2 linked regions of the Homo sapiens genome follow. The protein of the gene in region 2 purifies or fractionates together with the protein of the main gene of each other region. This does not show direct contact. Each region holds a gene or a part of one and is shown on either strand. Other genes may lie near its edges.

Region 1 (16,053 bases), on a different chromosome or scaffold from region 2:
GGCCAACATGGTGAAACCCCATCTCTACTCAAAATACAAAAATTAGCCGGGCGTGGTGTTGCCAGCCTGTAATCCCAACTACTCAGGAGGCTGAGGCAGGAGCATCTCTTGAACCTGGGAAGTGGAGGTTGCAGTGAGCCGAGATCGAGCCACTGCACTCCAGCCTGGGCAACAGAGAGAGACTGTGTCTCAAAAAAAAAAAAAAAAAAGCATCTTATTACCACAAAGCATTTGTTGTGTCAGTCTTATGATCTCTATTTTAGCATTAATGCTGGTCAATTGTTGTGTCTAAACTGTGAAAGGGATAGGGTATAACCAAGTGTGTCTGACTTCCTGTTCCATCATGGCTTCTCTGGGGTCCCCTGTACCAAAAGGGTGTCCATTTAGTCCGTTGGAAGGTTTAGGATTTTATTTTTAGTTCTCATGTGAGATCACTCAGTATCAGTGCATTTAGGACAATATAAATGTTATTAACAGTTGCATTCTATTCTTTTATAGGAATGTACCATAGTCTTTTAAAACAAATTCTCTAGCGATGAACATTTAATTTGTTTCCAGTCTTTTTTGATTATAGACAAAATAGCAATGGATATCCTTAGGTATGCACATTTTCTTTTTGTTTGTTTGTTTGTTTGTTTTGAGACTGAGTCTGGCTCTATCACCCGGGCTGGAGTTCAGTGGCATGATCTCGGCTCACTGCAACCTCTGTCTCCAGGCTTTATGCGATTCTCCTGCCTCGGCCTCCTGTGTACCTGGGATTACAGGTGCGTGCCACCACGCCCAGCTAATTTTTGTATTTTTATTTTTATTTATTTATTTATTTTTGAGATGGTGTTTCGCTCTTGTTGCCCAGGCTGGAGTGCAATGGAGCGATCTTGGCTCACTGCAACCTCCATCTCCAGGGTTCAAGCAATTCTCCTGCCCCAGCCTCCCGAGTAGCTGGGGTTACAGGCGCCTGCTGCCACGCCCAGCTAATTTTATGTATTTTTAGTAGAGATAGGGTTTCACTATGTTGGCCAGGCTGGTCACCAACTCCTGGCCTCAGGCAATCCACCCGCCTTGGCCTCCCAAAGTGCTGGGATTACAGGCATGAGCCACCGTGCCCGGCCTTATTTTTATTTTTTTATTTTTTATTTTTTTTATTTTTATTTTTTGAGATGGAGTCTGTTACCCAGGCTAGCGCAGTGGCTTTATCTTGGCTCACTGCAACCTCCACCTGCCAGGTTCAAGCAGTTCTCCTGCCTCAGCCTCCTGAGTAGCTGGGATTACAGGTGCGCATCACCATGCCCGGCTAACTTTTTGTATTTTTAGTAGAGATGAGGTTTCACCATGCTGGCCAGGCTGATCTTGAACTCCTGACCTCATGATCTGCCTGCCTCAGCCTTCCAAAGTGCTGGGATTACAGACATGAGCCACTGCACCAGACCTAATTTTTGTATTTTTAGTAGGGGTGGGATTTCACCATGTTGGCCAGGCTGGTCTCGAACTCTTGACCTCAGGTGATCCACCTGCCTTGGCCTCCCAAAGTGCCGGGATTACAGGTGTGAGCCACCATGCCCAGCCTGCACATTTTCAATATTGGTAAGTTGCCATTTACTCATCACAACTATCTACCTAGCTTCAGCTTGTGCGTCAGATAGAAAGTTATCTCGGCCGGGCGAGGTGGCTCACGCCTGTAATCCCAGCACTTTGGGAGGCCGAGGCGGGCAGATCACCTGAGGTCGGGAGTTCGAGACCAGCCTGACCAACATGGAGAAACTCCATTTCTACTAAAAATACAAAATTAGCCGGGTATGGTGGCGCATGCCTGTAATCCCAGCTACTCGGGAGGCTGAGGCAGGAGAATCGCTTGAACCCGCGAGGCGGAGGTTGTGGTGAGCTGAGATCATGCCATTGCACTCCAACCTGGGCAACAAGAGCGAAAATTTGTCAAAAAAAAAAAAAAAAAAAAAAAAGCTGGGCGCAGTGGCTCATGGCTGTAATCCTAGCACTTTGGGAGGCTGACGCGGGCAGATCACAAGGTCAGGACTTTGAGACCAGCCTGGCCAATATGGTGAAATCCCGTCTTTACTAAAAATACAAAAATTAGCCAGGCGTGGTGGCACGTGCCTGTAGTCCCAGCTACTCAGGAGGCTGAGGCAGAAGAATTGCTTGAACCTGGGAGGCAGAGGTTGCAGTGAGCTGAGATCACGCCATTGCACTCCAGCGTGGGCAACAGAGCAAGACAAGACACCGTCTCAAAAAAAAAAAAAAAAAAAAAGTGGACTCTCTGTCTCAGGAAAAAAAAAAGTCACCTGAGGTCAGGAGTTTGAGACCAGCCTGGCCAAGATGGAGAAACTGTCTCCACTAATAATACAATACACCGGGCTGGGCACGGTGGCTCAAACCTGTAATCCCAGCACTTCGGGAGGCCGAGGCGGGTGGATCACCTGAGGTTAGGAATTTGAGACCAGCCTGGCCAGCATGGTGATACCCGGTCTCTACTAAAAATACAAAAATTAGCCAGGCTTGGTGGCAGGCGCCTGTAATCCTAGCTACTTGGGAAGCTGAGGCAGGAGAATCGCTTGAACCCGGGAGGCAGAGCTTGTGGTGAGCCGAGATCACACCATTGCACTCCAGCCTGGGCAACAAAGCAAGATTCTGTCAAAAAAAAAAAATTAGCTGGGTATGGTGGCCCAGGCCTCTAATCTCAGCTACTCAGAAGGCTGAGGCAGGAGAATCGCTTGAATCCGGAGGATACAGTGAGCCAAGATCACGCCATTGCACTCCAACCTGGGTGACAAGAGAGAATCTCCATCTCCAAAAAAAAAAAAAAAATGCAAAAACTTAGCTGGGTGTGGTGGCACACACCTATAGTCCCAGCTACTCAGTACTCAGGAGGCTGAAGCAGGAGGGTCACTTGTGCTTGGAAGGTGGAGGTTGCAGTGAGCCATGATTGTGCCACTGTACTCCAGCCTGGTGACCGAGTGAGAGCAGAAAGAGTGAGAGAGAGAGAGAAAGACTCATGCTTTAGGGCCTCTGACAATACCTGTGTATTGTGTGCCTCAACTTTTTTTTTTTTTTTGAGACAAAGTCTCACCCTATCGGCCAGGGTGGAGTGCAATGGCATGATCTCAGCTCACTGCAACCTCCGCCTCCCAGGTTCAAGCGATTCTCCTGCCTCAGCCTCCCTAGTAGCTGAGACTACAGGCGCGTGCCATCACGCCCAGCTAATTTTTGAATTTTTAGTAGAGAAGGGGTTTCACCACGTTCAGGATGGTCTTGATCTTTTGACCTCATCTTCCACCTGCCTCGGCCTCTCAAAGTGCTGGGATTACAGGCGTGAGTCACGGTGCCAGGCCGCCACTGCCTCAACTTTTTGGGCTTATCCCTGGAAGAAGAAACTGCCACTACTTTTTCAATTTTAGAGCTAATTTGGTTCCATCCCTGATTTTACAGATGAGGAATCAGACTGAGAGAGAAGAGACTTGCCCAAGGTCACAAGGGGTCTATGTGATTAACTAAGACTGACCTCCTGGTTACCCATTTTGTGGAACAAAAACTATTTCATTTGCAGCATTTTCAGATGATTTCCAAGGTCTCCATCTTTCTTGTCTCCTTGAAAATGCAGTCCCAGAAATGCACAACTAATGCTTTTGTTAAGGGTCGTTGCCCAATATGCTAAATTGTAAGAAACCATCTCCCTCTGCTGGTAATATGGCATAACGACAAAGCTTAAATATAGGAGTCACTTGCATTTAGGAAAAACTATTGCTCCAGAACGAGGTTATGTCTGACAGTTTCTGTATACTTTTTTTTTTTTTAGACGGACTCTTGCTCTGTCGCCCAGGCTGGAGTGCAGTGGTGCGATCTCGGCTCACTGCAAGCTCTGCCTCCCAGGTTCACACCATTCTCCTGCCTCAGCCTCCCGAGTAGCTGGGACTACAGGCGCCCACCACCACACACGGCTAATTTTTTTTTTTTTTTGTATTTTTAGTAGAGACGGGGTTTCACCGTGTTAGCCAGGATGGTCTCAATCTCCTGACCTCGTGATCTGCCCGCCTTGGCCTCCCAAAGTGCTGGGATTTACAGGCGTGAGCCACCGCGCCCAGCCCCGTCTGACAGTTTCAACCACTTTGCTGTTGCCAAGACTCAGTCAGGATAATTTACTTCAACGAATGGGTTCACAGTAGAATGTATTCCAAGTAAATATAATCTCACAGAGTGAATAAGCCAAAAATCCATGAAATTGGTGAACTCAACAGAATTACTGAGTTTTTGTGTGGTTTTTTTTTTTGGTTTTTGTTTGTTTGTTTGTTTTTTGAGATGGAATCTCACTGTCACCCAGGCTGGAGTGCAGTGGCATGATCTCGGCTCACTGGAACCTCCACCTCCCGGGTTCAAGCGATTCTCCTGCCTCTGCCTCCTGAGTAGCTGGGATTACAGGCATGCGCCACCACGCCTGGCTAATTTTTGTATTTTTAGTAGAGACGGGGTTTCACCATGTTGGTCGGGCTGGTCTACGAACTCCTGACCTCGTGATCCGCCTGCCTTGGCCTCCCAAAGTGCTGGGATTACAGGCGTGAGCCACTGCGCTCGGCCGAGAATTACTTGAGTTTTAGAGACTTAAAAGCTGCTAGTGGAATATCCATGTGGAGATGGCAATAAGAAGCCTAGCTGTAAAAATCAGAATCAGAAACACCAGGTCAGTTCACAGCTAGAAGTCAACTTTGGCAGTCTTCAGCATACAGTGGGTGGCTTATACCATGAACATCTAGGTAAGAACAGTGGACTGAGGACAGACCCTGGAAATGAACAATATTTCAGAGTCAGGAAGTTGTGAAACCAGAGAATTAGTAAGCATATCACTTAAGCTTCTAAATAAAGACCAGTAACATTTAACACATGGTTGCAGTTTATGATGATAATCATTAAGAATACAAATAACAGGACGGGCAGAGTGGTTCACACCTGTAATCCCAACACTTTGGGAGATTGAGGCAGGCAGATCATCTGAGGTTAGGGGTTCCAGACCAGTCTGGCCAACATGGTGAAACCTGGCCTCTACTAAAAATACAAAAATTAGCTGGGCATAGTGGCAAGCACCTATAGTCTCAGCTACTCGGGAGGCTGAGGCAGGAGAATCACATGAACCCAGGAGGCAGAGGCTGCAATGAGCCAAGATTGCGCCACTGCACTCCAGCCTGGGCGACAGTGAGACTATGTCTAAAAAAAAAAAAAAAAGAATACAAATTATGAAATTTCACAGCAGGAAGGTTTTACTTCAGAAAGATTAATGGCATACTAAAAATACAAGAAAAAACACATTCCAAGTCAGATAACTTGGTTATAGCAGCCAAATGCAACACTACTGAATGACATGTATTTAAAACTGAGAGAAAAACAGGAACATGTCAGTAAGAATATAAACACATGGTGTTTGCTTATCTCCCTGCCTTTTTTTTTTTTTTTGAGACAGAGTCTCGCTTTGTTGCCCAGGCTGGAGTGCAATGGCGCAATCTTGGCTCACTGCAACCTCTGCCTCCTGGGTTCAAGCAACTCTCCTGCCTCAGCTTCCCAAGTAGCTGGGATTACAGGTGCTTGCCACCACATCCGGCTAATTTTTGTATCTTTAGTAGAGATGGGGTTTCACCATGTTGACCAGGCTAGTCTTGAACTCCTGACCTCAACTGATTCGCCCACCTCAGCCTCCCACAGTGTTGGGATTATAGGCGTGAGCCACCGCGCCTGGCATCTCCCTGTCCTTATATTTTAAGAAAGGATGATTACAGAAGTGACAATTATAAATCTTCCTCGGGCAGACAAGACACTCCCATAATGATAATAGCTAACCCTTAGGACTCTTACTATGGGTCAGGCACTGTTCTAGGCATTTCAGCATAGTAACTGGTTAAATTCTTACAATCTACTTTTGAAGTAGCTATCTCTAATGTATACACTTGGGGAACTGAGACATAGAATCCTTATGTAACTTGCGTTAAGATCACACAGCTTTTTTTTTTTTTTTTAGTAGAGATGGGCTTTTGCCTCGTTGCCCAGGCTGGTCTCAAACTGCAGGGCTCAAGCGATCCCCCCGCCTCACCCTTCCAAAGTGCTGGGATTATAGGCGTGAGCCACCATGCCCGGCCACATAAATAACTTTTTTTTGAGATAGAGTTTTGCTCTTGTTGTCCAGGCTGGAGTGCAATGGCGCAATCTTGGCTCACTGCAACCTCCGCCTCCCAGGCTCAAGCGATCTTCCCGCCTCAGCCTCCCGAGTAGGTGGGATTACAGGCATGTGCCACCATGCCCAGCTAATTTTGCATTTTAAGTAGAGACGGGGTTTCTCCGTGTTGGTCAGGCTGGTCTCGAACTCTTGACCTCAGGTGATCTGCCCACCTTGGCCTCCCAAAGTGGGATTACAGGTGTGAGCCACTACGCCTGCCCTGACATAAATAATTTTTTTTTTTTTTGAGACAGAGCCTCACTCTGTCGGCCAGGCTGGAGTGCAGTGGCATGATCTCGGCTCACTGCAACCTCCACCTCCCTGGCTCAAGCAGTTCTCCTGCCTCAGCCTCCGGAGTAGCTGGGATTATAGGCGTGTGCCACCATGCCCAGCTAATTTTTGTATTTGTAGTAGAGACGGGGTTTCACCATGTTGGCCAGGCTGGTCTTGAACTCCTGACCTCAGGTAATCCGCCTGTCTCGGCCTCCCAAAGTGCTGGGATTACAGGCGTGAGCCACCGCGCCTGGCCAGTAATTTTTAGAGGTAATACTAACGTATTTATCTACCATTAAAGACCCAGGAGAACTTAGTAGCTGGGAATCCCACTGGTTCTCCCAACTGAGGTGCAATATTATCTTTACCGTCTTTACCTTACGGTAGCGGATATAGTGTTAATAAATGATTAGAATACTGCTTTATGAGCAGGAAATACTGTAATGATTTTCACCCTATCAGAAATAATAAAATGTTTTCTGCATCAGCAGATATTTTTCATCATTTGTTGGTGTTTAAAAATGTTTTCAGAATTCTGAAGATACCATTATCTGTAGTTTAGGAAAACTACGACTCACTTTAAAAGAAAAAAAGTTTTCTTTAATTGCCTGCCCTTAGAAAAGATGGTTCCACAGAACACACTTCCGGTACTCGAGATGAGGACTTCCCTTGAACGCCCATTCTGTAAGACAGATAACGCGTTGGCCCTTAAGAAAGATGGCATCTTTCCGCCTTCTCTGCCCCCTTCCAAGATGGCTGCCCTAATGTACACTTGGGACCTTGCCTGGCGCCTCTTCCGGGCTTGGCAGCGGGCGGGGTCCATTGAGTAAAGCCTTGCGTGCCTGCGCCCGCGACGGAGGCGCGCTTCAAAGCGCAGGCGCGGGGAGGGGGTGGGGGAGGAGGGAAAGCGGCGAGTAAGATGGAAGATGAGGAGGTCGCTGAGAGCTGGGAAGAGGCGGCAGACAGCGGGGTAAGGAGGAGCCGCCGTCCCATGGCAGGGCCGGGCGAGACCTGGCGTGAGGGGAGCCTCCGGGGAGCGGGTCTGGAGATAGTTCTCCCCAAGGAAGGGCCCCATACGCCGGGCTGGGGGTGGTGGAGAGGCCCCCAGTTCCTGAGCGCCGTGAAGGCCTCTTAAAGGGGCCGCGATCCATTTCTCTCCTTTCCTTTGCCTGGTGCGCCTCCCTCCGCCCACTAACGCGCGCGTCACCCGGGGCGCCCCACCCGCCACCCGGGGCCTCCTTTCCTGACCCCCCGCGCCCACTTGCTGGCCGTGGGCCTCTGTGACTCTTTCCGATGAGCCTTGTGGCCCGAGGCACCATTTTAAAGTTCTTGTGCTCTGACCGGGACGGACACACCATGTGGGTGGTGGTGGGGCTTGCGCGGACCAAGGAGGCATGTCCGGCTTCGCAGGAAAGCGGGAGGAGGCAGCCGAGGGCGGGGGGAAATTGAATCCTCTTTGGGCTACTCAACTCTGCTAAAATCCCCCACCATCCGTCACGGTGGACGAGTCGGGTTTTTTTTCTCTTTCACTTTTACTCCAAGAAGAGTTTGTGGGCAGGCAGGCAGGTCTCACGGGGACTCTGCCAAAGCAACCGAAAGCTCTGCGGGGCAGCTCCTCTGCCACTCAGCGATCCGAGGCCCCGGGAAGGTCTAGGAGTTCGCTTGTCGGAGTCCAGGGTGTGATATGTAAAACAGCCACATTCTTGGGAGAGGAGTGGGGAGATGGACCGTTCGACTTGTTTTTGGAGTTTTTGTTTGCCTCCAGAAACTGTAGGAAAATAGTTTATCTCAAAGAGGATCTGTCAATTCTCTTAGATTTGTGAATAATTTGGTCTTTTCAGAGTTTGTCTGTGGTGACCCTTGTGAATATGGGGAGATGCTTTTTTTGTCTCCCCGTGTTCGCGTCTGTTCAATGCTGGCTGCACTGACATCCACCTTAAAGGTTTACGTGTGCGAGGAGTCGAGCGTACCAGGGTAGAGTAGGCGCTGGGTTTTTTTTCCTAAGCGCTTTTTGGGGGTGCTTATGAGCTCTGGAAGAGGCCGGGAAATTGACCCTGGCAGCAGTCAGTGGGTGTATCTAGCTCTACGGGAATGTTGAAACTTGGCTTTGAAGTTTTTTCCGCTGGTTCAGCATTTCTCTCAACGGTTGTTTATGTTTTTCCATTTAGCATAATTGAGAATTTGAAGGATTCGTTCGTTCAGAGGATATTTAGTAGAGTTCTTAATGTGACAACCATCTTTCTTGAGTTTTGGCTTAAGAAAGTTAAAGATTTTATAGGGAGTAACAGGTGTCAGTTGGCTCCTTGTTCATTCAACCAGCATTTTTGAGTGTCTGCTATATGCTAGGCAGTGTGCTTATCAGTGACTTTGTGCCAGAAAATGCAACATTTTCGGTACAGGCGTTTATTGCCTACCACTAATCTGAGTGAATCATCCAGACATCCCTATAAAAAAGCTTGGCTTACAACTTTAATATCATGCAAATGATACGTTTCTTGGGCATCTTGGCCTTTCTTTGGTTTTCCTCACCTGTTTCAAAGGGTCATAAATCCCTCATGTTAGAGAAGTTGGAGGCAAATGAACAAAAATGAATAGGATTCAGCAGAAATTGGGGCTTACTTTAGTTTTTCAGAATGGGTAAGTCAATTAGAAATAGCTAGTACAGTCCCCCATTTAACAGCTGAATAAGCCTAGAGATGTGAGATTTAGAGACTTAGGTCTTTCTGACGCTTGTCGCGTGTTCTTTCTTTTTTCTTTTGGTTCCCAAGTTTTATTGAAAAACTTATACAAAATATTCCAGATAAATGAAATTTAATCCTCATCTTCCTCCTCTTTGTCCTGGTTAATCTGGAAGTAACATAATTTGTAGCTATCTTTGCTGTTAGTAACTAGGAGCAACCAATCACGTAAATTATTCTTCATATATGTTTTGGTGAGATATTTGAAATACCTTTTGGAGAAAGGCACCTCGGATGTCACGTTGATCTTGCTCTTACTCCTTTCAATGGTCGCCATCCCTCCACCAAGGTTCTCAGCTTTTCCGTTCACTTTGATCCTTTCTTGCAAAAACTGCTCAAAATTGGCAGCATCCATGATTCCATCTTCTACGGGGTGAGTGCATTCAAGAGTGAACTTCAGAACCTGCTTCTTTTTTTTGCCCCCCTTCACCACAGGCTTTTTCACAGAAGCCATGGCAGCAGCGGAGGCAGAAAGCCAGAGTTCTTTCTGCTATCCCTTACTTTAGTAATATCCTTTAAAAATGTACCGCGGCCAGGTGCTGTGGCTCACGCCTGTAATCCCAGCACTGTGGGAGGCTGAGGTGGGTGGATAACCTGAGGTTAGGAGTTCCAGACCAGCCTGGCCAACATGGTGAAACCCCATCTCTACTAAAAATACAAAAATTAGCTGGACCCTATGGTACATACCTGTAATCCTAGCTACTTGGGAGGCTGAGCCAGGAGAATTGCTTGAACCTAGGAGGCGGAGGTTGCAGTGAGCCGAGATCATGCCATTGCACTCCAGCCTGGGCAACAAGAGTGAAACTCCATCAAAAAAAAAAACAAAAAAAAAAAACTACAGAGGTGGAACACAAACCTTGCCTTATTGACATCATGAACACTTCTGCCAAAATGCAGGTTCTCTAATATATTTTATTTAATTGAATCCTTGAAACAACCTGTTGAGGCATTGTCCCCCTTTTATAGACAAGGAAACGGAGGTTTCGAGAGTAACCTGTTTTGCGCAAGATCACACAGCTGGGGGAAGCTGGGATTTGATCCCAAGCATGTCTGACTTCAAGGCTGGGCTTTTTTTCTCTAGCATTTTGCTGCTACCTCTCTACCTGGGGACATGTGGAAAATTTGGGAATTGGGTGTTCTTTCTTTTCCTTTTTTTTTTTTTTGTTTGAGAGAAGGTCTTACTCCATTGCCCAGGCTGGAGTGCAGTGGCTCAATCTCATCTCACTGCAACCTCTACCTCCCAGGTTCAAGCGATTCTCGTGCCTCAGCCTCCCGAGTAGCTGGGATTACAAGGCGCATGCTACCACGCCCAGCTAATTTTTGTATTTTTAGTAGAGACGGGGTTTCACCATGTTGGCCACGCTGATCTCGAACTCCTGGCCTCAAGTGATCCTCCTGCCTTAGGCTCCCAAAGTGCTGGGATTACAGGCATGAGCCGCTGCACCTGGCCTTTTTTTTTTTAATTTTTTTTTTATTTTTTGAGATGAGATTGCCCAGGCTGGGCCTCCCAGTAGATTATAGGCATGTGCCACTATGCCTGGCAGCTTTCATTAAAAAAAAAAATATTTATTTATTTTAGATACAGGGTCTCATTTGGTTTCCCAGGCTGAAGTGCAGTGGCATAATCATAGCTTACTGCAACCTTGAATTCTTGGGCTCTAGCAGTCCTCCTGCCTCAGCCTCCCAGAGTTCTGGGATTATAGGCATGAGCCACTGCCCTCAGCCAGCTTTCATTTTTAATAGTTTGTCTGGGCTTATATTTGAACGCTGTCTTGAATTTGATTCCCTTTTCAAATTTCACAAAGGTTCTTGTAAATATGCACTTTTGAAAGAGGGGAGCCAGGGAGATGTTATGTCCACATCACTGGGAAACCAATGGACTGCAGGCTATACATGTCTTTCATATATAGGCAATTGCGTAAAAGTCTTGGCTTCAGGTTATCCCCTCTTCCTACTGGTAATGAGCTTTGAATACCCTACTCCAAAACAGCAAAAACTGGGTGAAGACTAATAACCTAAATGGGAAAATTGAAACTACACAAAAATCCAGCGGCAGTTCTAATCCTTGGAAGTAAAGGATTTTGGAGATCCCTGCCCTCCAACACCACAAGAAAATTTTTGTCTTTTTTCTTTGAGACAGGGTCTTGCTCTGTTGCCCAGGCTGGGGTGCAGTGGGGAACACTCACTGCAGTCTCAGGCAATTTCTGTCTCAGGCAATCTCCACCCGCCTCAGCCTCCCAAGGTGCTGGGATTACAGGCATGAGCCATCATGCCCAGCCAAAAATTTTTTGACATCATGTAGAATTTCTCCCCTCCCCTCCCCTCCCTCTGCTCCCATCCCTCTGCTCCCCCCTCTCCCTTCCTTTTTTTTCCTTTTTTTTTTTCCCCTTTTTTTTTTTTCCCGAGATGGAGTCTTGCTCTGTCGCCCAGGCTGGAGTGCAGTGGCGCAATCTCGGCTCATTGCAAGCTCCGCCTCCCGGGTTCACACCATTCTCCTGCCTCAGCCTCCCGAGTAGCTGGGACTACAGGCACCCACCACCACGCCTGGCTAATTTTTTGTATTTTTAGTAGAGATGGGGTTTCACTGTGTTAGCCAGGATGGTCTCGATCTCCTGACCTCGTGATCCGCCCGCCTCGGCCTCCCAAAGTGCTGGGATTACAGGCGTGAGCTGCTGCGCCTGGCCCCTTTCTTAAGACAGAAGGGTCTTGCTCTGTTGCCAAGGTTGGAGTGCAGTGGTCGGAATACAGCTCACTGCAGCCTCAGCCTCCTGAGTAGCTGGGCCCACAGGCGTGTACCACTATGTGCCTGGCTAATTTAAAAAGAAAATTTTTTTGTAGAGACAGGGTCTTGCCATATTGCCCAGACTGGAAGAATTTTTGTGTGTGTGAGTCATCTGAGGTCATTGTTTCCTGTATAGCTTCCGAATTCTTAGTATCAAGTCCTATTGTGTCATTTGGAGAAAGACTGACTTTGAGAAGTCCCTCACATATTCTGTGAATAGACTTTTTGCTTTTAGTTAGTATGGCAAACACTTTTTTCTTTTTCTTTTTCTTTTTTTTTTGAGACAGGGTTTCGTCCTATATCCCCAATTGTTTAAGACAATCAATAAAATATGCCAGGCGTGGTGGCTCACGCCTGTAATCCCAACACTTTGGGAGGCTGAGGCGGGCAGATCACCTGAGGTCACGAGTTCAAGACCAGCGTGGCCAACATGGTGAAACCCCGTCTCTATTAAAAATACAAAAATGAGCTTGGCATGGTGGCAGGTGCCTGTAATCCCAGCTACTCCGGAGGCTGAGGCAGGAGAATCTCTTGAACCTGGGAGGCAGAGGTTGCAGTGAGCAGAGATCGCACCACTGCATTCCAGCCTGGGTGACAGAGTGAGACTCTGTCTCAAAAAAAAAGAGTTCATAGTGTTGGTAATGAGCTAACCCAGCTAGGGGAAGGCAGCAGATGATATAAAAATGTAATTGGACCAGTGGTTATTATAAAGCACTGACAACCTCTCTGATTTCCCTGTATCTTGCAAGTTTCCTTTTATTCTTTTTCTCCAGGTCAAGGCATGCAGCTAGTGGGAAGAAAATGCATCTTGAATAAGTTAAAGGATGACTGGTGTTCTGGATTAAGAATTGAAATTTATGTTTACTTTCTACCCCCATGAGCCAGTTATCCAAACATTGCCCCATCAGTGATGCTGGATGGTGTATGAGTCCATAGGAAGGTGTCATTAAACATTAAATAACTATTGCATACCAGGCATGGAGGCCCTGTTTAGTGGGGGAGTCAGACAGGTCCGGCAGCACCTTCAGGAAGAGGCATAAGTGGGGTACCATGGCTGGATCAGAGAAAGTCTTGTAAAGAAGACGATGCCTAAGTTAAGATTTGAAAGATCAGTTGAATTAAGCAGTGGTAAGTCTGGGAGAGGCAGGTAGAGTGTAGGGCCAAAGCAGGCATGGATGAGGAGGCCGAGAGACAAATACACAGCATTGGGAGGGCTACAAGTATTTCCTTCTGGCTGAAGGGGAGAGGGTTGGCAGGGTTGAGTGGAAAGAGATGAGACCACAGAGGTATGTAGGGGCCAGATTGGGAAAGGCTTCCTTGTACTTGGTTCTGGAAGCTTGAACTTTGTCCTGAAAGTGCAAGGAGCTTTGAAGTTTTTTTTTTTTTTTTAAGCAGAAGAGTGATATAGCTAGATTTATTTATTTATGTTTTAAATTTTTTGCCGGACACGATGGCTCATGCCTGTAATGCCAGCACTTTGGGAGGCTGAGGCAGGTGGATCACCTGAGGTCAGGAGTTCGAGACCAGCTTGACCAACATGGAGAAACCCTGTCTCTACTAAAAATACAAAATTAGCCAGGTGTGGTGGTGCCTGCTTGTAATCCCAGCTACTCGGGAGGCCAAGGCAGGAGAATCGCTTGAACCTGGGAGGTGGAGGTTGCGGTGAGCCGAGATTGCACCATTGCACTCCAGCCTGGGCAACAAGAGTGGAACTCCGTCTCAAAAAAAAAAAAAAAACAAAACACGTTTTTTTTTTTTGAGACAGGGTCTCACTCTGTCACCCAGGCTGAGCGCAGTGGTGCAATGATGACTTACTGCTGTCTCGACCTCCCAGGCTCAAGTGATCCTCCCACTTCAGCCTCAACCTCCCGAGTAGCTGGGACTACAGGCATGCGCCACCACACCTGACTATTTTTGATTTTTTTGTAGAGACAGGGTCTCACCATGTTGCCCATGTTGGTCTCGAATGCCTGAACATAAGTGATCCTCCCGTTTCAGCCTCCCGGAGTGCTGGGATTGCAGGCGTGAGCCACCACACCCGGCCCATAGTTAGATTAAATTCAGGAGATCAGAACTTTGATTTTCTTCTCTTTCTTTGGAGAAGAGGCCATTCTCCCCAAAGTGTGACTGCCGCTTCACTCTGGGGTCCCCAATGCTTTGTGTAGCTGCTGTCATTTTGGAACATGTACAACAAAACAACAAAAAAAGGCTATGGGTAGTGGGAAAAAAGAGATCAATTAGTTTGGGGCTATCTGGTGCTGATTTCTTTATGTCTGTCCCTGCAGTAAAAAGAAGGCATTTAAGATTTGTGGTATCACAGAAAGCACAGTTCCAGATACACCATGCCTAAAGGGGCCACCTCTCAGTTGGTGCTAGTCTTTCTGGAAAGGTTGAGCCTTATGGACTGTGATGTCCTCAGAAGGGGCTTTCTGTGAAGCAGTTGGGCAGTTTAGGCATGATTCTGCTGAGCAGTCTGTCCCTGGGACTCTGGAAAAAGGTTGGTTTCACTGTGGCTTCAAAGAAAGGAGGATAATGAGCTTTTCACTAGTAACTTCTCAGCCCTTTTTTCATTGGCTGCATGGGAGGGCCTGTTCCCAGCGTGCTCTGGGTATCAAGAGAGCTGCCATGGTTGCCGTGGGCTAGAAATTCCAGCAATCACAGGCCTTCTTGTTTTTACTTCTATGACAGGAGAGGATTTAGTGCGTCTTTCTAAAACTGTTGGTGCAGTCCTGCAGAGAAAAGTCACAGTTGTCTAGGTCTGATGACTGAAAACATTCCAGGGGCCAGCCCTTTCCAGTTTCCACCTCTCCACTGCTGTTGGCCCCGACAGCTAGCATCAGTTTCTGGCTGTATCAGGTAGCTAGCCTCTACAAGGTGTGTTCTGTCAGGAAAACTACTGACCTGTTGGTTTCCTAGGAGAAGGTTGAGTTTAGCTACTTAAATCTGTGGCCAAAGTATAAAATAAAATAAAAAAATTTTAATGTAGTATCCATAGAGATTTCTCTTCTTGAGTGTTTTTGTTTTGTTTTGTTTTTTTGAGACGGAGTCTAGCTCTGTCGCCGAGGCTGGAGTGCAGTGGCGCAATCTCAGCTCGCTGCAACCTCTGCCTCCCGGGTTCGAGCGATTCTCCTGCCTCAGCCTCCCAAGTAGCTGGGATTACAGGTGCTCGCCACTACACCCAGCCAATTTTTGTATTTTTAGTAGAGATGGGGTTTCACTGTGTTGGCTAGGCCGGTCTCAAACTCGTGACCTCGTGATCCGCCCGCCTCGGCCTCCCAAAATGCTGGGATTACAAGCGTGAGCCACCACGCCTGGCCTTTGAGTGTTTTTCTTAAAACCGTTTGCTCCTACCAAGCATCCTTCTCTTTAACATCTAGCTCTGTGCAGGATATTAAGGTAAAACCATGCCCCACAGAAATTAGCAACAAACCCCAATAGTCTGTATGGAGACAGATAATTTTTTTTTCTTTTTTTTGAGAAGGAGTTTCTCTCTGTCACCCAGGCTAGAGTGCAGTGGCGCAATTTCTGCTCACTGAACCTCTGCCTTCCGGGTTCAAGCAATTCTCATGCCTCACCCTCCCAAGTAGCTGGGACTACAGGCTCATGTCACCATGCCCGACTCATGTTTTGTATTTTAGTAGAGACGGGTTCACCATGTTGCCCAAGCTGGTCTGGAACTCCTGAGCTCAGGCAGTCTGCCCACATCGGCCTCCCAAAGTGTTAGGATTACAGGCGTGAGCCACCGCGCCCGGTCCGAGACAGAGAATCTTGTCCTTGACGGTGAGACATTTCAAAATGCCCATCACAGTAAGCCAGCCCCTCCCCCCAACAAACTCGTTCCCTTATAAAAGGAACACAGGAAATAACAGTCATTCCTTTCTAAAAGGAATAATAAATATGTACAGCTAAAATTGCATTCTTCAGGGGCCATGGCGATTAGATGAGATTGTATAGAAGGAAAGTATGACTTGAGTCTGGAAAGGTCAGGACTGTCACCACTCTTCACTGACCTTGAGAACAATTCCCAGCCCAGCCCTTCCTAGCTTATAAAAACA
Region 2 (15,993 bases):
AGGTCAACAGAAGACCTGCACCCCAGAAAATCCAACCCCCATGGGGCACAGTCCAACGTGGGGGTGGGAAGAATTTACATCTTTGCCACCAAAGAAACAAATCTTTGCCCCACAGCCTGGGATTACCAGGGCAACCCTCAACGTGAGGGTAGGGGAAAACAGAAGAGGGGATCCATTTTTCAGGGGGAACATGCTTGTCTTGGCAGTTTCTCTCCTCAAAGATCCTGAGACCTCCAAACAAGACCCTCGGGCCCCGGTTGGCTGGGGAGCGTTGAGCACGCCCAAGGAACGTGGACACAAGCCCCTCTGTAATGGTGTGCCTATCAGGGGTCAGGGATCCAGCCTGGTCCACGGTGACCCCGGCGGGCAGGTTCGGCACAGTTTACTTGCTGAGCGCTTACAGAGTGTTCAGTGCGGTTTAAACCCATTCACTCCTCTCGACAGCCTCAGGCGGTTGAGGCTGTTACCATCCCATTTTACAGATGAGTAAATTGAGGCACGTGGAGCGGGACGGTGAAGCGACTTGCTCAGGACCTCACAGCACTGCTGCCCCTGGTTTTGTCTGGACTGGAGGTAGCCGGAGAGCCGGGGCGGCTCCGCACGCGCGCGGGCCAGGGCAGCGGCTGGAGACCCAGGGGAGCCGGGGCGCAGAGCCAGACCAGCCCCGCCCCCGCGGGCCCGGCGCAGCCAATGGGCGCCCGGCCCGGAGTGGGGTGACGCGGCGTCAGCGCGTAACTCCCGGGAGCCCAGCCCTGGGTCACATGCGCCGCGCCCGCTCTACCCGGGAGGTAGGGAGGGGCGGCGGGGACAGGCTGGGCTCAGCCCCCAGTCCAGACACCTGGCCAGGAATGCCGCCAGGTGCGCGTCCCGGGCACCGGAAGGGCTAACACGGGACAGCCCCACCCGGGACTGCGTGGCGCGCCCAGAGCGGAGGATTCCTTCCAGGTCACCCAGCCCGGCCCCTGCCCGACCTCGGCGTTGCCAACTGGGAGATAGGAATTCGCATCTCCCCGCTTCCTCTCCAAGCCTCTTAGAGACTGAGAGGCAGCTTCTGTGGGTTTCGAGCCTTTTCGGGCAGGCGTCCAGCACGGGCAGGGCCTCTTCCAGGACGCTTGTCCTGTCCAGCCATGCCCTCGGTGCCCGGAGCTCAGCCGTGGATGGCAGGGCAGGCACTGGGCAGGAAAACTGGGTTGTCCACTCTAGCCATTGCCTAGGCTACTGAAACCCCTCCCCACTCCCAGAGCCCCCCTGCCCCCCTGCCCCCCTGCCTGGCCCTGCATATCCTTCACTGCTGTGGGAGCCAAGCTGGGACCTGCCCAGGTTATGGCAGAGGGGCCAGGCTGTGGGAAGAGACTGCTCAGAGCCTGAGTCTCCCCTCCCCCACTTCTCCATCTGTATATAATGGGGTCAGATGACTGTTGACATGGGTGATTCTGGTCCTAGATGACGCTCGTGGTCTCATTCCAGCTTGGGCTCTGTGGTGAGCTGGGCGAGTTCTTTCCAGCCCTCTCTGAGCCTCCATGGCCAGCTTTGCCCCTGGAGGCTCACACCCATGTGGGCACCTGCAGGCTTATCATGAGTCACTGAACACACCCTCTACCAAAGAGCTACTTGAACCCCAAAGATTGCTGCACAGTGAGGGGTGTAGCTCACAAAGGCTGAGGAAGACTGATACCTGTTCCCTGGGGGGTAACTGGCTGTTTGAGGAGAGGCCAATTGCATATTGAATGGGGTGAGTCTAGCCGGCAACAGGGAGAGTGAGGAAATCAATGTAATAAGGCCCCTGTGGGCATTGGGTTTACCACCCACTACACCAGTTTACCGATCAGGAGAGTAAAGAACAGAGTGAGACAGTGACTTACCCAACACCTACAGTTAAGCCTGCAACCCTAGGGAGGAATGGGGTGGACAGGAAATGGCACCAGACAATGGAGTCCACTCAATTTCCGGAAGCATCCTACTTACTCCCTAGTGCTGAGAGTAGAGATTTTGCGTCCTGGAATGTTGAGGGCCTGGGCTTGGAGGCCCTGGACAGACTCCTCTGAGGTCTGCCCCAAAAGCTCTGACAGGGACTCCTGTAAAATAAACTGATGGCATTTCTGGGTGGGTCATGCAGACCTGTCCAAGGCCTCAGGTTCTGCCCTCCCGCTGCCCCCAGGACCCAAAGGAGACCTTTTTCTTGGAAAAACCACAGGCTCCCACAATGCTTCCCTCAAGTGTGCAGCTTGAGTGCCCTGGGGCTCAGCTATGTGCTCAGAGCCTCCTCTCCTGCAGGCCCTGGAAGAGAGCTACAACACTTAACTGGCTGCAGAGTGTCCTTGACTCTGGGAATAGAACCAGGCTGCACATTCCCCAAGGGCAGGACTGGAGCAGCCCTGTCCCTCCCCTCTGGCACCAGCCTGGCACACAGCAGGCTCTCAGGAACACTGCTGAAAGCACAAGTGGCCTAGGTGTCCTGGTGAGTCCACAGTAGTGTCTCAGCACCAATCTACTCTCCACAGGGTAGGGACAGAGCTCAGGCCTCTTTCAGTGCCCACATTGCCTGGTACAGTGCTGGGGGCACATAATGAGCCAGGATCTATGCTATCTGTTTAAAGGGACCTGGGTTTGCAGCCCCCCACCCCCACTTCAGGAGCCCACTCCCCTTCTCCCCTGGGTGTGGGAACCTTTATCTCACTCCAACTGGTCAGAAACAGGGCTCTGCAGAGCTCCCTGGAGCCCAGGGAGGCAACTGGCCAGAGGTAGCTGGGTGCCGCCCCTTCTGGCTACGACTGGTGATGGCGGTGGTCCCAACACGGCCCCTGCCGTGACCTGACTCCTATCAGTGGGCAGGAGAGCCCCTCCTGAGCCACGCTCCCAGAAGGGCTGCTGTTCAGGGTAGGTGGGGCAGCTTTATCTGCTGGCCATGGAAGTGGTGTCTTTCCTGCCCACTTCATGGACCTGTCTGGGAGGTCTGGCTCTGGGTTGGGTACTGGTTCTGCCACTACTCCCTGTGCAGCCTGGGGCAAGCCTACAGCTCTTTCTAGTCCTCCATGTCTTCACTGGCACAGCAAGAGTTTGGGAAGATCTCCAGGTTCATCGGGGGTTTGGTGAGTCCACCCTGACTTGAGGTCTGTCCTTAAGCCCCAGCGAAGGGATTAAAGGGCCCTCGGCCTCCCAAGCCACTTGGAGAAGGCACAGTTCCCACAGGCTCCCACAATGCACCCCTCATGACCCCCTATGCCTCTGGGCCTGAGGGGCCTGCTTCCAGGAGGACAGCTACCTTACAACAAAGGGCTGCAGGTGCCCACCTCCAGGACAAGGGGAGAGGGGGAAGGAAGCCTTTTTAGAAAGGGAGAGCAGGCTGTGGGGATGGGAGGAGACAGGTTTCTTTTGGGGGGAATAAAAATGTTCTAAATTTGGTTGCGGTGATGATTGCCCAACTCTATGGATATTCTGAAGACTACTTAATTGTACACTTTAAATGGGTAAATTGTATGCTATGTGAATTATATCTCAGTAAAACTGTTAACAAAGTGTGAAGTCTACCTGGCTTGGAGCAGCAGTTCTCAAATTCAGTGCCCAGCACAGGCTCTGCAGATGATGCCCAGCCAAGCTGTGGGAGTCCAGCCGAGGGTGGGGGCTGGGGCTTAGAGGGGGTCAGGGGTGGCTCAGGCCTGCTTGCTCAAGGCCTGGGTGCCCTGGGCAAGGGTGAGTGGCCTCCTCCTGCCCATCTGGGACCTGGGGTGAGACCTAGGAACAACCACAGCACTTGGTCCTAGAGCTCTCAGGCAGGTTGTAGCAGGCTTACAGCCACTCCCACCGATGTCACAACCTGGGCCACGCACAGGAATTTTCCTGGCCAGGTAAGGGGCTGCTCAGGCAGCCTGGCCACTGGGGAAGGGTGGACTGAGGGTCCCCATGGCCACCCCTGCTTAAATAAAGCAGGTGGTCAAAACTGGCAAGCCCTTTGGACAGTCGTAGCCAATTCAACAGACCACACAGGCATAATTTGTTCAATTATTTATTTATTGTGGAGTATTTTACATGCAAGAACCCAATTAGAGAGAGGGTATCTGGAAGGAGGGCCAGTGGGGTGGATGGATGCTCTGAGCCTCGGGTGCACTGACCCACCCTCCAGAACCAGCTCTGCCCACAGAAACACATGACAGTGACAAAAACACTAAACTTCTAGGACGAGTGGACAGCAAACGCGACATTCAACACATTCCTCTTTTCAGTAGCCCCCAACAATCCTGAGAATCCTCACAATTAAGTGCAAACTTTAGGAAATAAATATCCGTCCCCCTCTCCGGGAGAGCCTGGAGGTATGGACAGACAGAAGCAGTTCTGACTCGGGGGCTGATGGCTGCTCCCTATGGCTGGTGGCCGCAGGGGAAGCCTGACTTGGACCCCACAGATAGGAAGGGCTGGTGACGGGCACTGGGGGAGGCGAGCACTTCAGGGGCTGACAGACAATGTCTCTGGGGTGGAAACACTTCTCTCTGGGTGGGGAAGGCCTACTGTAACCCAAGTGGGTGAGACGTCCCCAAAGCCGACAGTGCAGAAGCTCCCAGGGACCACTCCAGCAGTGCCAGAGGCTGAAGCCAGGCTGCAAGCAAGTGCTCCTCCACACTGCTCTTCCAGAGCTGCCCCAGGGGCTGGCCTGGCCCCAGGTGGGCCCATGGCCTACCCCAAGCCATCCAGAAGGCTGGGCCCAACTGAGTTAGAGATGCGTGTCTGCGGGGGCCCAGGGTGGGGTGTGGCAGCGGGAAGGAGGGGGGCAGGAGCGTGAGCATCGGCAGCAGCTGCCCTGCGAGCATCTGTTGCCCTTGGGCCATGTGGAGCCCTTGCCCCAACTCTCCGGGCTGGGTCCTCTCCTCCCCAGGGGCTGGAGTGACAGCACAGGCCCCAAGACCACCAGGTGGCATGGTGGGGTGGTGGGGGAAGGCTAGTGAACCAAGGCACCATCACTCACATGGAGGCGCTAATAGAAAGACAGGAGGACAGACGGATGGTCACCTTTCCCTCTAGCCCAGGCCAGCAACAACCCCTTGAGGCTCCAAAGCTCCTTGTCCCATGCACGCTGGTAAGCGAGCCAGTCATTCTCTCAGCCTGGCCACAGATGGCCTGCTCAGTGCCTGGAGACTGCCCAGGCAGGGCTACTCTGCAGCAGGCAGGCCAAAGGCCCATGGTGCCAGGGGCCCAACTGCACATAGCGCCATTCTCTGCCGCCCAGTGGCCAAAAAGGTAGGCAGGAGGGAATGGTTAGTTTTCACATCTCAGCAACAATGAACGCAGAAAGGGTTAAACACATTCCCAAGAAAATATTTTGACAAAATAAATATTTTAACCTATAATCAGGTATAATTAGTGCTTATAAGGAATCCCAGCAATAATTTAGTGTAATTAAGTATATACTGTATCTGTGATTTCTAACACTCACGGAGAGGCTGGTGGGCCTTGAGAGTCCAGGTTTCCTGACAGAGCCGCACCCCCTTCCTGGACCAGGCAGCCTAAGGACTGTGCTCCCCAGATGGTGGGGTCTGGGAGCAGAGATCTCAGGACAGGCCATCTCGCCAGGGCTAAGTGGAACCCACTCTGGGGCACCGGGGCTATACTTGCTTCCTGTGCAGGCCTCAAGCAAGAGCCCCCTCTGCCTACAGGTGGGGCAGGCTACCTCCGGATAGGAGGTGCAAGCAGGCCACCTGAGGGGTGGCTCCAGGCTAGGAAGGCAGGTGACACTTGTCAGCATGGCCAATGGCCTCCTGCCAGCCCATACAGGTCCACCACTCCCTGCTGCCCCTGGGGCAGCCAGGCCTCTCCAATGATGCCTGGCAACCAGCTGGCGCTGGCGCTGGAGCTGGAGCGGGGCAGTTCTGGGAGTGGGTATGAAAAACAGTTTTGCTGGGGGCTCCCCAGGAGGGCGCCTATTTCAGCTTCACGCACTATGGAATCCCTGCTCCTTTCAGAGCCTCCAGGCTCCTGACTTTTTGGGACTCCTGGTTCCATGAGGCAGGGAGGCTGGCTCTTCCCTCTGAGGACACTGGGTCTGGGATGCAGTGCTGAGGCTGCGGAGCACTGACTGCCCGAGGTCGGACCGCCCACCACCCGCAGGCCCAGCTCTGGCAGGGCCTCAGAGACAACCCAAGTCACAACCCAAAGGCAGCCAAAGGGCTGGGGCCTCTGGGTGCACCTGGGCCATCCCAGCCACCTTTTCTGCAGCTCAAGTGAAGCCAGCTAACTTCAGCAGTCTTCACATTCAAGCTGGCCTCAGGGGGGTCTGTCTTTGAGAAACATTGAGGAGGCAGGGGCTCATCAAGCATCAGGGAGCAGAAGGCCCAGGCAGGTGTGGCATGTGCTGCCAGAGAGGACAGGGCTAGAATCAGGCTGGCCACTCCACGGAGGAGCTTCCTGGGTGAACCTGAGCAACTGGAGTGAGACATCCCAGCTAGTCCCACCCTCAGCCAGACAGAGGTTTCCTCTCTGGAGGGAGCTGGAGGGCTGCTAGCCTGGCACAGGGTCCTGGGTCGGGCAGCACTTGCTCTTCACTGGAATAGTTCCTGTTGGTGCTCAGCATGACCCCCAGCTGAAGTCGCCATCCTGAATGCTCCCCAACGACCATGTCGCTGGTCTCTTCTCCCGTCAAGCCCAGCCCCCTTTCCCTGCTTGGCTGGTGGTCTGGGCCGTCCTGCCAGGTGGGAAGGGCTAACTACACCATGGATCAGGAACCTGTGCTGACCTAGGCAGTGCATGCTGGAGGGGACAGGAGCAGACTGACCCAGCGAGCTGGGCCCAAGACACACGGGGATGCATACAGCTGCAGTATTCTCCTTCTGAGCAACAGCAGCCTGGTGGGAGGTGTGGGGCCAGGTGTCTGGCTGGACCAGGGCCTGGGATGACCCGAGTCCCTTGCCCATGGCCAGGAGACACACCAGTGAGGACACGGGATGGGAATACATGTTACCAGCCCCTAGCTGCTCTGCCTGCCTTCAGGATCAGCTTGGGGAGAGAGTATAAATTGGTGGCCAGAGGACCTCTGAGGTGGGAGGAGGCCAGACTGTCAGGAGAGTCTGTGCAAGGAGGCCAAGGCCTATGCCAGGGAGCAGAGCAGGGGCCTTAGTGCTGCCCAGGCCTCTCAGTCACTGGGAACCTCCAAGGATGCCACAAAGCTGTTTGCTGCTGGCTCTTGAGGCAGATGTGTGAGGCTACGGCAGGCCAGGCCACAGCACTGAGTGTGGCCCATGTGCACATCTGTGACACTTCCCCAGGCAAGCCAGAGCAATACCTCCAGTGCAAGTCCCTCCACAAGCCAGGACCAGGTGTGCGGGTGTGAGCCTGCAGTGTGTGCGTGGCAGTTTGGTTTATTGGTAGTGTCGTCTCAGCAGCGTGCCACATGGCCACCATCTGCGGGCTGCCTGCTGCCCTCCCAATTGTCCTTGGCCCTCTCCCTGCCCAGGGAGCCTGCAGGGACCCTCGGTGCCAGGCTCGGCTGCTGAGCCAGCTTGGGTGTGAAGCCTGGGCTGGCAGCTGAATGATGGAGAGAGGGTCAAGAAGGTGAGAGACCCCCACCATGGAGACCCAGCAGAGCCTTCTCAAATGCTGATAAGCCAAATGTCACAAGGTGACAAGTCCAAGGAGTGAGACCAGGCCCATGAGTGCAGCACACCCTGCTCTTCCAGAGATGCCACAAAGCCCCTTCAGGGAGAGAGGGGCCCAGGAGGGCAGAATGCCTGAGAAGGTCGCTGAGCCAGGCAGAGGTGAGCACAGGGCGGGGCCGGGCGTGCTCTTTCTCCATGGGCGGGTGGAGGAAAGACAGTCCGGGTGGTCTGCTCAGGAAGCACTGCCTGGGGCTGGGCCACTCTGCCCGCTCTTCCTGGGAGGAAACATGGGCAGAGGGGCCCATGGTGGGAGGGGAGAGAGTCTCTGGCTGCAGTTGTCCCACCACTCAGAGAAAAGAAGTGGCTGAAGCTGGTCCTGACTAGTGGGAGGCCTGGGAGCAGACACGGTGGCATTTCCATGGAAACACAGGTGTGCAGGCCGTGTGGAGCTGGGGATGTAGGAGTGGCCAGTGCCCGGTGTCCACGGGGTGCGAGCGGGGACCCGCCATCTGGGGAGGCAAACCACAGAGCTGCTCACAGGGCGAAGAGGGCATCCTCTGACCGCTCTGGCTTCTTCCGGCCAGAAGGGTTTGAGGCTGGGGCAGGAGCCTCCATGGGGGGCGAGGGGAGGTCGGGAACCATTTCAGCAGCTTTGGCTCTTTCTTCAAGGAATTTATCAAACTCTGCAATACAAACCAAGGCAAGGGTCAGGGTTGGTGAGGGCAGGCCACCAGAGGAAGCGCACCCTTCCACTCCCCAGCCCGTTTCCTCCTCTAGGGCAGGCATGAAGCCCACCTAGGAGCAGGTGGGTAGGGAGGGGTTCGTGAGCTGCAGTGTGGGGGGAGGCTCCTGGCTGTGCCCAGTCCTCCTGCCCTGGAGGGAAAGGCTCTGGAAAACACAGCCCAGAGTGCTCACCCTACCGCTGACCATTTTCCAGATCAGCACTGGGTTTTGTCCATTTTCCAGATCAGCACTGGGGGTGGGGCAGGGTAAGCTGGAGGGGCCAGCTTCTGATTAAACAGGCAGGAACCATCCCACCTACCCCACCCTTGCCCACCAATGGAGGACTGAGGAGATGCTGAGGAATGCAGTGGGGAGGGGGGAGTGCCCCATTTCTATGGGCACTGAGAGCTAGGGAGCAGGGTCCTCTGAAGTTTCCCTCCCTGCGGAGCGGTCTGGCCACAGGGTCTGGCAGACCTGGGGAGAGGAGGACAGGAGCACGGAGAGGCAGATGGAGTGGGGCAAGATGAGCTTGGGGAGGCAGGATGTGAAGGGCAGGGGATGTGGGGGTGGCCATGTGGGAGAACTAAGACCCCGCTGCTCCCATCCAGCCCATCAGCTGAGGCCCAGGAGAGGCTCCTCCCTTCTGGCTCAGTGGCCCAAGGGTGCTGCTGCGCACCTCCACAAACTGCGTGTCTGAGCTGGGCTGAGCACCTGTGGGTCAGGACCAGGTGGCAATCTGCACCCGCTATTCACCAGCTCTGCAACTTTGTGGAATTGACATGTTCTTTCTGACCTGTTTCCCAATAAGCGAGATAAATCACACTTCCCAAATCAGCGTAAGACCTGGGTGGGACAAAGCCACCCGTGAAGCCCATGGCTCAGGGCCTGGCACCAGTAGGTGCTCTGGCAGCGGGGGCTCCAAGATGATGGGGGCTGGCTCCTGTGCAGCCTGCACAGAGGCAACAAAAGGGGGCTGTAAGGCCACTGGCCAGGCCATACCTTCACTTGTGACACCCTCCTCCAGATCATCACCCTTCTGTGGGAGGAGCAGAGAAAATGAAATTAGGGCACTGGTCCAAGCACTGCCCGCCCAGCCACCTCTGTCTGCCCATGGCCACCCTAGGACAGCACTGCCCAGGGTAGCCTGAACAAAACTTCCTAATTTTCCCTGTTTCCAGATTTCTGTAATAGTAAAATACTGCTCTTCTTATTGGAGAAACAGAAGCTTTGTTTTTAAAAAACAAAAGCAAAAAATTCAAACATGTTTTAGGTTTTGATCCTCCAGAAAGGCTGGAAAGAAAACTCCAAAAACGGTGCAGGCTGGTTCTCCAGCCTGGGCTGCAGAGGGCGGGACCCCACCTTTGGCACTCTTGAGGCTCTAGGGAGAGGCACAGAGCAGTAGCCACAGGGGGCTGAGCCTGAGCACACACAGGGTCACGTGTGCCCAACACAACACCCACTCACTGCCAGCCACAGGGTTTCTGGGAAGACGCTGTTGACACCAATAGCTGGAAACCGCATGAGGCCTTGATGGCTCAGGGCCACAAAGCCCACAGCACAGGGCCTGTCACTCAGTAGGTACTTTGGGAGTGGAGGCTGTGCCTCCAGAAGCCATGTCCTGCAGCCTCCTGGGAGCTGCACCAGCCTCCTCCCGTGGCCCAGATTATATTATCTGCTGCTGGCTCCTCAAGGAGCCATGGAGGCTCTGTGCACTCAAAAATTAAAGTGCATCAGACTTGATTTTGTTTGGAGAACATGGTAGTGTCTTGAGCTCATGGGGTTCCCTGGGGACTGGGGAAGAGCAGCATGTGCAGGGCCTCATTGGGAAGGGGCAGGATGGGGAAGTGACAAAGCCCTGGGCTGGGCTAGGAGACCTGGGTTCCTTCCTGACTCTACCACTGACCTGCTATGTAGCCTTACTGGACACATCCCCTCCCTGTCTGGACCCTGGGGTCCCCCTTAGAAGTTAAGGACCTTGGTCCTTCCTGCCTTGCTTCTGTGAGAGAAGCAATTTCTTTTCGAGACAGCCCCTTGGGAAAGATGTCCCGGGGTGTGTTCTTCCTCCCTGACACCCAGGCAGCTGCCTTCTTTGGCAAGGCATGTGTTTGGAAAGCTGACCTTCTGGGGAGGAGGCCCAGAGCAGCCAGAGGCCCCAACCTGAGGCCTGCTGTCCTGGTGTGGGAGGTAGCCAGGTCACCAGCCCACAGACAGCCAGGCTGACCCTGTGGTTAAAGAACTCAACAGGCTCTTCTGCCTGGGGACAAGGCCCCCTACAGAGGAGGCACCTAGGAGGGAGATGAGGTGTCTCCAGCTCTGGGGGAGAATCCAACTACCCCATGACTCTGGGCAAGCCACTTCCCAGAGTGCACTTCTTCATCCGCCACCCTGGCCCCCTACTGGGCTGCTGAGAGTGAAAGTGCTTTGTAAAGAACAGAGGGAGGGGCCAGCAGTTATCACATGCAGCCACTGCAGCTCTCCTTTCTTGGGACCTGTTGCCATTTTCAGATGCATAGTATCCTCATCTTCTAGCCCTATCTCTGAGGATGGAGACAATGGGTCTTTGGGGCAGGGGTTCTTTTACATCAAAAATCAGGAAGGGAGGAGGGGGATGACAGCCAATTAAAAACAAAAGCACTGTGTGTATACTTCACAATTAAAAAAAAAAGAAATGAAAACAAAACAAAACAAAACAAAAAACATGCTCCCCCAACACTCCCTCCCCCAAAAAACCAAAGCACGGCACATACATCTGAAATGGAAAAGATACTGGGGGGAAGGCAAGTGTGTGTTTTGGAGCCAGCTACGGCTAGGACTGTGTGGGTGAAGGAGGCTGTGCCCAAGGCCTTGCCCCCAGCACAGTTGGCCTCCGCAGGCCGGGAGGCCACTGCAGCACCCACAGCTATGGGCTGATGTCGGGGAGGAGGGGCAGCTATGGAGCTTGCCCAGACCTCCCTTCTCCACTGACCCAGACAGGGGTGGAGCCCCTGCTGATGCTCCCCCAAGGCCTGTCCTCAGAAGAGCCTCTGCCGCTCCACACCCCACAGATGAAATAGAAAAGTCGAGTCTCACCAGGTCGGTCCTGAGCCACACCTCAATGTCGTCCATGACAGATGGCTGCGCAACGGGGATCTATGGAGGCGGCAAGCAGCGGGCCAGGCAGCCCCCACACAGCCAGCGAGGGGAGACAGAACACCGGAACAAAGGAAATCATCAACAGCAACCCCAAATAAAACCAAAATGTACACAGAGCAAAAAAACACAATTGGCACAGCACACAGGGGCAACACAGGGCAGCCACGTGTGAGATGGCAGGTGAGGAAAGCAATGAGGTGCAAATGATAAGAAGCAGGCTCCCGGCAGGGCCGGCGGTAAGGAAGGTGGCTGTACGCGTTCTTGAAATGGAGAACTTTTTGACTATGAGTGTCCACTCTCACATTGCGGGGCCTCTCAGCCCGGGGCTGCAAAACACCTTCTAACTTCAGGAAGGCGCTGCCACGCAGGCTGATTTTGAACTCAGCCACTATGACAGTCCGCTGTCAAGCCCAACCCAGGGAAGGCCAAGTGACAGCCTGCCCAGAGCGGGGTACAGGTGCTCAGAGGGCAGGGCAGCACCAGCCCCGGGGGGATGCAGGGGGTCTGTTTGCTCCGCTGAAGAGATTTTGAAATGCGTCCTGGTGCATTTCTGAGTGGAGAGGGGAACTGGAGGAGGTGCGTGCTCCGCTGGGCTGGGTGTGGCCTGGTAGACAGAGGCAGGCACATTTTACCATCAACAGAAACACAGCAAAAACGAGGGCTCTGATGACAAAGGGGACTATGGGGCTTTAGTCTTCTTTGTGTCTCTTTAGGGGAAATTCATGAAGCAGCCCTGAAAGCAACAGCTCCCTTTAGTCTCGTCCTTTCTTCCCTGTGTTCAATGGCTGGCTGTGCTTCAGGAGTCAAAGAAACCAAGTTCAGCTGAGCACTGGGGCGCAGCAGCCAGAGCCAGGGAGGTGACAGCTTCCAGGCATACTAAGGTGTACCACGGGGTTGCCTGAGCAGTCACCTTGCTTGGGCCCCTGTGCCAAGCACCTCAGGGACAGAGACTCTGAAAAATGCACATGGCTAAAAAGGTTTAAGTTGCCATCAAATATGACATGATAAGAAGCTCCCTAGAAGCCATGTTAATGGAATGTTGGCTCCCAGCCTAGAGAAATGAGGTGATGACCCTTAATCACCTCCTCACCTACCCTGGCTCTGGGAGGTACCCTTCCGGGGCTCACTTGCAAGACCCCTATTTCTATTACAAAAATGCCAGCTCTGTCTATAGCTGGCTTCACCCAATGCCATGATCTAGGGTAAGACTAAAGTAAAAATAAGCAGTAAAAGGAATGCATACCCCAGTGTCTATCAAATGTAAAAAATAACACGACCTTCACAAAGAAAAAGAACAAAGAACACATATCACCAGCAGTGATGTGACAACTCCAGTCCTGGGGGTTGACACCTGCTGCTGATGGTGGGGGAGGGTGGTTTGGGGTCCCAGGTAGAGTCCAGCACTCTGAGCAGGTATCTACGATGCCACCAGAGCTCTTCACTCCCTCAGTGAGCTCAGCTGGCCCCTTGCTCTGAGGAATGTGCTCTGTGTCCTAACTTCGGACCCAATGTGGGAAGCCCACAAGAGCACTTTCAGAAAGGCCCAAGCCAGTCACTGATCAGATTAGGAAGAGTCTGTGTTGCTCATTATTTCTTTGACTTACTGGGGAGTTAAGAATGTTGAATTGAGCAGGGCACGGTGGCTCATGCCTGTAATCCCAGCACTTTGGGAGGCCGAGGCGGGCAGATCACCTGAGGTCAAGAGTTTGAGACCAGCCTGACCAACAGGGAGAAACCCAGTCTCTACTAAAAATACAAAATTAGTTGGGTGTGGTGGTATGCGCCTGTAGTCCCAGCTACTGGGGAGGCTGAGGCAGGAGAATCACTTGAACCTGGGAGGCAGAGGTTGCAGTGAGCCGAGATCACGCCATTGCACTCCACCCTGGGCAACAAGACTGAAACTCTGTCTAAAAAAAAAAAAAAAAAAAAAAAAAAGAACATTGAATTGAAAAGGTATCAGGGAGTCTTATCACCCAGACATGAAACCTAGGGACAGGAGGCATGTGGGTCCTCACTGGGGGGATGGACGCACAAATGACTGACAGATGTGTTAACAATGCCTAAGGCTGGCACTTCCTTGCCCTTGCCCATCAAAAGGCAGTAGGGTACACTGCTACTCTGTGCTTGCTGGCAGGCCTTCTGCCTTGAGACATTCCTGGAACAGGACACACCAGTTATCATGCTCTCAATGACTGTAAGTCAGAATGTGTGGCCTCTGGGAGGACGCATGCCATGCTGAGTCCCCAAAACTGAAGCTTAGAAAGTCAGCAGCATCTCCAGAGAGAAAATAGTCCCACACTAGCGGTTAGAGTGTGCACCAGCCCTTTCTTTACACCTGACCAGCTTTTGTCCACTTAGCAGAAACAGACTAGATGTCCTGAGCTTTCCAATGTGTTGCAAAAGCTACAACAAAGACATTAAGGGGTCAGGGGCCTTAAACCTTCAGATTTTTCTTGTAATTGTTTTGTTGCTGCTAAAGAACAAATCCCTTGAGGCCTGGGGTCATACTTTAATTTTCTTCTTTGGGGATAAATCTTGAGAGCCAACATGCTCAGAAAATAAACAATGACACTTAAGAAATTCCTCACCTCCTCAAAAATAACTTCCCAAAAGCTGGCTCATGGGAACCCTTTTCTTCCATGTCCTAGATTTTTCCAAATAAGTAGTATGTTTATGGAATGGCATCCTCCAGACCAAGCCCTAGAGGGCACGCTGAGGAGAGTGCACTGGGTGGGGTCCATCTGGGCCCTCACACTCACTGGTGGCAGGACCTGGGGTGAGTCGCTCCTCTCTGGACCCCACTTTCTTCACCGGAGAGCTCCTGAGTTTCTTCTATCCTAAGAAGCCTTAGAGATTTGGGTGGAGAGGCAGGAGCAGGGGACAGAGGCCTGAGCAATGCTTGGCCTCAATTTCCTCATCTGTGAAATAAGGCGATTGCTAGATTGTATTTGGCTTTCAATTCTTATGACTCAGAAACCTTAACTTTCAGGTTGGTGCTTCTGTTTTCTAATTCAGAAACCCAGGGATGTCAGAAATTATGGAAACTGACTCATTACAATATAGAAGCCACTTGGCCTCAGGGCGTGAACCATGGTGGAGCAGGGTGATGGTTAACAGTTAAGCTTATATAACGTAAGCTTAAATTGACTTTCTTGTGGCCAGACACAAAACCTTAGCTATCTAAACCTCTTGTCCTGGTAAATAAATGCCTTGAGTATTATAACAGGGCAAAGTTCCTTCTAATAATGTAGGTGCTATCAGACTCAGACTAAACATGTACACTGCTTGGAAAATATGAACCAAAGAAACTGTGGGAGGCCGAGGACGCGCTCCTTGTCAGGCTGATGGGAGGGAAGTGGGGCCCTGGTTGGAGCAGGGGGCACTGCGCTGAGTCTTAGGGGACTCTGTTTCTTCCCTGCAGCTTTGGGCAAGACACCAGGCCCTTAGGAGGCCTCGGTATCCTCATCTGTCAGACTAGGGGCTGGCCCAGCAGATTCCTAAGAAGGCTGTTGGCTCTGATGTGTCATAGTTTTATTTTTATTTTTATTTATTTATTTAGTTATTTATTTAATTAATTAATTTATTTAGAGACAGAGTCTTGCTCTGTTGCCCAGGCTGGTGTGCAGTGGTGCGATCTCAGCTCACTGCGACCTCTGCTTCCCAGGTTCAGATAATCCTTGTGCCTCAGCCTCCTGAGTAGCTGGGATTACAGGCGTGAGCCACCACACCTGCCTAATTTTTTTTTTTTTTGTATTTTTAGTAGAGACAGGGTTTTGCCATGTTGGCCAGGCTGATCTCAAACTCCTGGCCTCAAATGATCTGCCCAGCTTGGCCTCCCAAAGTGCTGGGATTACAGATGTGAGCCACTGCACCCAGCCTGACATGCCATAGTTTCAGCATTTTCTTGGGCAATGATCCAAGCTGAAGGCTGGTCTGAGGGATCTGAAGAAGCGTATGAGTTGGAAGAGAGGGACAGAAAGGAAGAAGACATGTGAAGAGAGAAAAGGAAGGAAGCTAGCAGAGGAATGCCCTCCAATAGAGACTGCTGCCTGAAGCTCAGCCCCTCTGAAGATAGGTAGGCCAGGCTGGCTTGGCTGAGGCAGTGGTTAGACCAGCCCTGCCCATTTTCAAAGTCCACAGACATCTTGGATGTCAGAAGCCACAGGTTTTGATCTGAGTGGCAGGTGAGCCATCCTGCTGTCAGCTGATTCTCACTTGGAACTGCAGGCAGGGGCAGCTCTGCCTCAGGGATCAGGAGGGAGGGTTGCCTGCCCAAGGGGGAGAGGCATGTCTGTCTGGTACTCCAGGGGTTAGGATTATCCTTCCAGAGTAAGAGCCTTGGGGGCCTCCAGGTCTGAGGAGGGAGTCCCGCCCTCCAAACCCAAGCCTGGGTTTTGGCAGCAGCATTCTTTACTAACCTACCTCTGTTCTTGTTTTGACTTAGATTCTCTCACATGAGGATATTTTCCTGGCTGCACCCTGCAAAAGGGAGACACCCCTAGCTGATCACCAGCCAAGAGAGGCAAAAAGACCTCACACTAGAGAGGCCAGGGAGGGA

Evidence for each region.
Region 1: the proteins of TOM1L2 (region 2) and SZRD1 purify together in Homo sapiens (affinity purification with mass spectrometry; 2 studies listed by BioGRID and IntAct, with this or other methods). This does not show direct contact.

What each region holds. Positions count from the first base shown.
Region 1 is NC_000001.11:16,359,861-16,375,913, forward strand, and holds the start of SZRD1 (SUZ RNA-binding domain-containing), read left to right. Parts: upstream 1-7,381; 5' UTR 7,382-7,397; coding exon 7,398-7,448; intron 7,449-9,232; exon of another isoform or gene 9,233-9,691; intron 9,692-16,053.
Region 2 is NC_000017.11:17,839,521-17,855,513, forward strand, and holds the end of TOM1L2 (TOM1-like protein 2), read right to left. Parts: intron 11,433-15,993; coding exon 11,373-11,432; intron 9,340-11,372; coding exon 9,303-9,339; intron 8,264-9,302; coding exon 8,115-8,263; 3' UTR 3,991-8,114; downstream 1-3,990. UniProt on the Homo sapiens protein: Acts as a MYO6/Myosin VI adapter protein that targets myosin VI to endocytic structures. May also play a role in recruiting clathrin to endosomes. May regulate growth factor-induced mitogenic signaling.